Homo sapiens: one gene and its partner. The protein of the gene in region 1 purifies or fractionates together with the protein of each later gene. This does not show direct contact. Each region holds a gene or a part of one and is shown in the gene's direction. Other genes may lie near its edges.

Region 1 (3,659 bases):
CTTGCAGTGGGGTGGAGGGCTAGGAAGAGACAAAGTGATGAGTGTTCATGTGTGTCTAAGTACCAGGGCATGAGAAGCGACTCTGAAGACCTCACTAATTGGCTGTTCCTTTTCTCTGTGGCCAGTGTTTGTCCAACATGATGCTGCCCAACTGTACCTCAAACTCTGGAACCTGATTAAGGACCAGATCACTGATGTGCACTTGGTAAGAACCTAGAACCAGAGCACTCGGAAGCTTAAGATGCTGCTCATTTCACTCATTCAGCTGTTGTTCCCGTAGTGTGTAGAGGAATAAAAGAGTTAATCCCCTGTAATCCCAGCACTTTGGGAGGCTGAGGCAGGCGGATCACGAGGTCAGGAGATCGAGACCATCCTGGCTAACACAGTGAAACCCTGTCTCTACTAAAAATACCAAAAAATTAGCTGGGCGTGGTGGCGGGAGCCTGTAGTCCCAGCTACTCGGGAGGCTGAGGCGGGAGAATGGCGTGAACCCGGGAAGCGGAGCTTGCAGTGAGCCGAGATCGCGCCACTGCACTCCAGCCTGGGTGACAGAGCGAGACTCTGTCTCAAAAAAAAAAAAAAAAAAAAGAAAAAAGAGTTAATCCACATAAAACACTTATCACAGTTTCATAATATTGTTACTGGTATTATTTTGCACCTTTGTGAGGAGCTTCTGTCTCTTGGCTCCACCTTCTGGCAGTTGGCCTGACCTGGCTTATGGTGGTGTTCCCATCTCACCTCTCCGCTCTCCCTCTTGCAGGTGGAGAGACTGCAGGCCCTGTATACGATCCGGGTGAAGGACTCCTTGATTTGCGTTGACTGTGCCATGGAGAGTAGCAGAAACAGCAGCATGCTCACCCTCCCACTTTCTCTTTTTGATGTGGACTCAAAGCCCCTGAAGACACTGGTAAGGGGATTCTCTTGGTATTTGCTGCCCCTGTATGTGTTAGTCCATTTTCTGTTGTTATAACTCAATATCTGAGACTAGGTAATTTATTTCTTACAGTTCTGGAGGCTGGGAAGTCAAGGTTGAGGGGCTGCACCTGGTGAGGGCCTGCTTGCTGGTGGGAACTCTCAGAGTCCTGAGGCGAGGCAGTGCAGGGCATCACATGGCGAGGGGGCTGAGCATGCTAATGTGCCAGCTCAAATCTCTCTTCCTCTTCGTATGAAGCCACCAGTCCCACTCCCAGGATAACCGATTAACCCATTAATCCATGAGTGGATTAATTCATTTATGAGGGCTGTGCCCTCATGATGCAATAACCTCCCCCCCCCCTTTTTTTTGGAGACAGAGTCTTCCTCTGTTGCCCAGACTGAAGTGCAGTGGCACAATCTCAGCTCACTGCAACCTCCGCCTCTGGTGTTAAGTGATTCTCCTGCCTCAGCCTCCCAAGTAGCTGGGATTACAGGTGCCCACCACCATGCCCAGCTAATTTCTGTATTTTTAGTAGAGATGGGGTTTCACCATGTTGGCCAGGCTGGTCTGAAACTCCTGACTTCATGATCCACCTGCCTCAGCCTCCCTGGGATTACAGGCATGAGCCACCTTGCCCTCCCCAATTATCTCTCAAAGTCCCCACCTTTCCATACAGCCACACTGGGGATTCAGTTTCAACCTGGGTTTTGGGGAGGACAAACCCTCAAACCATTACACCACACAGCACAGTGTGGCCAATTCCCCCTTGCCTCTTTGATCTATCTCTGGCTTCTGGAAAGTCACTTATTTCATTTTCATGGCACTGGCCAATTTCTCCTTTGTTTGGCAAAAATGTTTTTCCCTCCTACCTCCACTTCCCTCATACTGCTCCCTTAATAGGAGCCCCCTCCTGTTTTGTTCCTCCAGTCAGTAGGTGCCCTTTGAGATCCTGCCAAGTGGACCACACCAGGCCAGGCATTAAGGGGGATATGAGGAGAACCAGAAGAAAAGCTGAAACCCTCAGCTGCAAAGTGTGGGGAGGCTGTAACTGATACAGTTTGGGACTGTGTCCCTGCCCAAAAATCTCCTGTTCAATTGTAATCCCCAGTGTTGGAGGTAAAGCCTGGTGGAAGGACATTGGATCATGGGGGAGGGTTTCTCGTGAATGGTTTGGCACCATCCCCCGTGGTGCTGTCTTTGTGACAGTGAGCTCTCATGAGATCTGGTTGTTTAAAAGTGTGGAGCCAGGCTGGGTGTGGTAACTCACGCCCATAATCCCAGCACTTTGGGAGGCTGAGGTGGGTGGATCACCTGAGGTCAGGAGTTTGAGACCAGCCTGGCCAACATGGTAAAACCCTGTCTCTACTAAAAACATAAAAAAATTAGCTGGGCGTGGTGGCGCAGCCTGTAGTCCCAGCTACTTAGGAGGCTGAGGCAGGAGAATCGCTTGAACCCGGGAGGCGGAGATTGCGGTGAACTGAGATCGCGCCCCTGCACTCCAGCTCCCCACTTGGTCTCTTGCACCTGCTCCTCCCAGGTAAGACACCTGCTCCTCCCAGGTAAGACACCTGCTCCTGCTTGGCCTTCCGCCATGATTGGGAGCTTCCTGCGGCCTCCCTAGAAGCAGATGCTGCCATGCTTCCGGTTGGCCTGCAGAACCATGGGCCAATCAAACTTCTTTTCTTATAAATTACCCAGTCTCAGCTATTGTCTCACAGCAGTGTGAGAACAGATGAATATAGTATTCTAGGTGGGAAATACCAACGCTGCTTTTTCCCTGTTCTCTTGGGTGGGACAGGAGGACGCCCTGCACTGCTTCTTCCAGCCCAGGGAGTTATCAAGCAAAAGCAAGTGCTTCTGTGAGAACTGTGGGAAGAAGACCCGTGGGAAACAGGTACTCATTCCCTAAATCAGACTCAGCTGTCCCTCGGTGCATATGGGGGATTTGTTCCAGGACCCCTGCTTTTACCAAAATCCACACACACTCAAGTCACACCCAGTCGGCCCTGTGGAACCCACGTATAGGAAAAGTCAGTCCCTCATCTATGCGGTTGTGCATCTGGGATACTTTATTTTTGATGAGCATTTGGTTGCAGATGTGGAACTCGTGCCTATGGGGGAGGGCAGACTGTATTTATTTACAACAATTTGTGTATAAGCGGACCCATACAGTCCAAACCCGTGCTGTTCAGGGGTCATCTGTCCTTCACTAGTCTGGGGTTGCCCCCCGTGGATTTCCTGATAGAATCATCAGAGGCCCCGAGGACACCCCATGGTGGGTGAGAAAGGGAATCTGGGTCTGGCTAGTATCTGGGACGCTGTGGTTCTGATATCTGGAGCCGTGGATGTGGCTTCTCATGTCGCATCACTGAGAGGGACTGCAGGAGGGCGCCTGAGAGCAGCCGGCAGGGCGTTTCCCTCCAGGCGAGACCAGCTCCCTGGAGCAGACGCGGTGGCTCCCTGGGTCCTGGTACCTGTGCAGAGCCCTGTGCCCTTGTGCCTCTTGTGGGGGGCCACATGGTGGTAGAATAGCCAAGTTTTGCATTATTCTCAGAGGAGCTCAGCAGATTCGGCGAACAGGAGCCTTGAACTCCGTGATGTCGCCCCGCTCCCCTCTTTTTGGGAAGAACGCGTTGCTAGCCCTGACATTTCTCTGACTCTCTCATTCCAAGTAGACTTCATCTCCAGAGTGATTTTGATTTTTCAGGTCTTGAAGCTGACCCATTTGCCCCAGACCCTGACA
Region 2 (3,659 bases), on another chromosome or scaffold:
TTCCGTCTAAAAAAAAGAAATTGGAGCAACAAAAATGCAATTAAGGGAAACAAAAGGAGTATTTTCATAAAGATAAAAGCCAAAATTCATGAATTTTAAAATATAAAACTAATAAATACATGCCATGTGTATGGCAGAGTTTCTGTCTTCAACTCTGACTTCTACCCTGTAGTCTAGTGTCCTGTATCCCACTGCAAAGTTCTTTCTTCTTGGATGTCTGGTAGGCACCTCAGATTTAACGTGCCCAGCCCCCACACACACACAAAACTTGCAGTTAGTTTTTTCCATTCTAATAAATGACATTACCATCTGTCCCCTTGCTTAAGTTAAACCTTTGGAGTCATCCCTGATTGTTCTTTCGTGTCACATGGCTAATTGATTAATTAGCAAGTTCCATGGGCTCAAATTTAAAGACATATTTAATGTAATCCGGCTGCTGTTTTCCATCTCTACTACTTCCAGCTTAGACCAAGCCAACATCTTCTCTCATCTGGACCACTGCATTAGCTTTCCAGCTGATCTCACAGCTTTCAGTCTTGCCCCACCCGCCAACACTACAGCCAAAGCAGTCCTTCAAAAATGTAAATCAGAGTATGTCTGAAGCTTGCTTGAAAACTTTCCAGTGGCTTCTCATCACACTGAGGAAAAAGTCCAAACTCCTTTCCCTGGCCAGGAAGGTCCTCCATGGCCCTACATTTCAGCCTCTGATCCCCAGCCTGATAACTCACATGCCAGAGTTATTCTTGTTGGTCCCTCTTCCTGGCACGCTCCTCCTTAGCCTTTCACATGGCTGGCCTCTCTCACATAGTCCCTCTTCATATTCTGAGACCACTTTCTGAAGTTACCTCATTTCTCGCTTCACTTGTATTTCCATGACCTTGTTTTATTTTTCATTATAGTACTATGGCTATTGAAATTATATACCTGTCTGTTCTTGCCTACTAGAATAGCATAAGGCTTCATGAGAACAAGGACTGTGTCTGTCTTGTTTCCCACTATAGCCCAGAGACATACTACATTGGACGTATATATTAAGTACTAAATAAATGTTCACAGAAAGCATGAATTTAAAAATTAAGGATAGATTATGAGAAAAGAAAAAAGTTCTAGAGCCAAGACATTGCTTTTTTTTTTTTTTTTTTTTTTTTTTTTTTTTTTTTGGGACAGAGTATTATCTCTCTGTTGCCCGGGCTGGAGTACAGTGATGCAATCGCCACTCACTGCACGCAACCTCCGCCTCCTGGGTTCAAGTGATTCTTATGCCTAAACCACCCAAATAGCTGGGATTATAGACCCACACTGCCACGCCCAGCTAATTTTTGTATTTTTAGTAGTGATGGGGTTTCGCCATGTTGGCTAGGCTGACGGTCTCAAAGTCCTGACCCCAATTGACCTGCCTGCCTCGGCCTCCCAAAGTGCTGGGATTATGGGCCTGAGCCACCACACCCGGCCAGCACTGCTTTCTAATAGAAAAAGAAACAACTTGGAAGAAATTAGAAGAAATGCAGTATGTTGAACCAAAACATAGCAAAGGATTATTAGAAGGGCAGCTGATGCTGGATAAAGGAAAAGATATTATGCATCAACCACCTCATAGTGCTGGAGCAGTAGTTTGAGGGTTGAAGGAACAGTGAGGATTTAACTAGAAATATAATCTTAGTACTCAAGACCTAGAAAAAAGAGAATGATAGTCTGCCACCAGATTGGTTTCCCTTAACTCTTTAATTTGTATCTTCAAATTCTCTCTCACCTAGCCTGGCCAACATAATGAAACCCCATCTCTACTAAAAATACAAAAATTAGCCGGGCATGGTGGCGCATGCCTGTAATCCCAGCTACGTGGGAGGCTGAGGTAGGAGAATCGCTTGAACCTGGGAGGAGGTGGTTGTAGTGAGCCAAGATCACACCACTGCACTCCAGCCTGGGTGACAGAGCGAGACTCCGTCTAAAAAAAAAAAATTCTCTCTCACTCTTTCACTGCGCACTTGAACTCTGTTCTGGCCTGTCCTGGACTGGGTAAATGACAAGTAGGCAAAAACCAGGACTTGGAGTATAGACCAGGATATGGCAAACTACAGCCACAAGCCAAATCCAGCCTGCCACCTGTTTTTGATAGCCTAAAAGCTAAGAATGGTTTTTACAGTTTTAAATCATTGGAAAGCAAAATATTTCATGATAATGTGAAAATTATGTGAACTTAAATTTTAGTGTCCATAAATAGTTTATTGGAACACACCTATCCTTTTTTGTTTACATATTATCTGTGCCTGCTCTCGTGCTACAATAGTATCATTGAGGAGCTGCGACACAGATGGTCTGTCTGACCCACAAAGCCTACAATCTTTACTATCTTGCTCTTTATAGAAAAAGTTTTCCAGCATCAGGTATACACTTGGCAAATGACTCTTCCTTTCGTATCCTTGGAGGATGATTGATGAAGGAATCTGATATAGCCAAAGATATGTAGGCCATTTTTCTTTGTGATAAAAATTATTTCTTCTCTTTTTACAGCAATTCAATTAAACCCCAGCTATATCAGGGCAATATTGAGGAGAGCAGAGTTGTATGAGAAGACGGACAAGCTAGATGAAGCCCTGGAAGACTATAAATCTATATTAGAAAAAGATCCATCAATACATCAAGCAAGAGAAGCTTGTATGGTAAAACCTAAAATTTTAAAAATATTTTTCCTTCTATTCTTTGTGTTGCTACCCAGTGAGTCCTAAATAATCCTTTCAGACACAATTAAATTCCATTTCTGTGCTTTTGAGGAGCTTATCAAGATATATGGGAGGCCAGGCGCAGTGGCTCTTGCCTGTAATCCCAGCACTTTAGGAGGCCAAGGAGGAGAGATCACTTGAGGCCAGGAGCTCGAGACCAGCCTGGCCAACACAACAAAACCCCATCTCTTCTAAAAATACAAAAAATTAGCCGGGTGTGGTCGTACACATCTGTAATCCTAGCTACTCGGGAGGCAGGAGAATTGCTTGAACCCAGAAGGCAGAGGTTGCAGTGAGCTGAGATCATGCCACTACACTGCAGCCTGGGCAACAGAGAGGATCATTGAGCCCAGGAGTTGGAGGCTGCAGTGAGCTGTGACTACATCACTGCATTCCATCATGGGCAACAGAGTAAGACTTTGTATCTTAAAAACAAACCAACAGGCTGGGTGCAGTGGCTCACGCCTGTACTCCCAGCACTTTGGGAGGCCGAGGAGGGCGGATCACCTGAGGTCGGGAGTTCGAGACCAGCCTGACCAACATGGAGAAACCCTGTCTCTACTAAAAATACAAAATTAGCTGGGTGTGGTGGCACATGCCTGTAATCCCAGCTACTCGAGAGGCTGAGGCAGGAGAATCGCTTGAACCCAGGAGGTGGAGGTTGCAGTGAGCTGAGATTGCGCCACTGCACTCCAGTCTGGGCGACAGTGTGAGACTCTGTCTTAAAAAAACAAAAAATACAAATGAATTTAAAAAAAAGTTAAAAATACAAATATAGCACTGTAAACATCTGATATGTATCCTTTCAAACTTTTTTCTGTATATATTTATTTGTTAAATTTGTATTGATGCCCTCCTTTAGTGTAGACTTTCTATTAAGAACTGGAAACAGAGCCAAACAAAACTTTTTTTTTTTTTTTTTTTTGAGAAAGGGTCTCT

What was found.
Region 2: the proteins of USP18 (region 1) and TTC1 purify together in Homo sapiens (affinity purification with a luminescence readout; one large-scale study listed by IntAct). This does not show direct contact.

The regions. Positions count from the first base shown.
Region 1 is NC_000022.11:18,167,130-18,170,788, forward strand, and holds part of USP18 (ubl carboxyl-terminal hydrolase 18), read left to right. Parts: intron 1-125; coding exon 126-205; intron 206-760; coding exon 761-907; intron 908-2,714; coding exon 2,715-2,810; intron 2,811-3,623; coding exon 3,624-3,659. UniProt on the Homo sapiens protein: Interferon-induced ISG15-specific protease that plays a crucial role for maintaining a proper balance of ISG15-conjugated proteins in cells. Regulates protein ISGylation by efficiently cleaving ISG15 conjugates linked via isopeptide bonds.
Region 2 is NC_000005.10:160,047,003-160,050,661, forward strand, and holds part of TTC1 (tetratricopeptide repeat protein 1), read left to right. Parts: intron 1-2,511; coding exon 2,512-2,660; intron 2,661-3,659.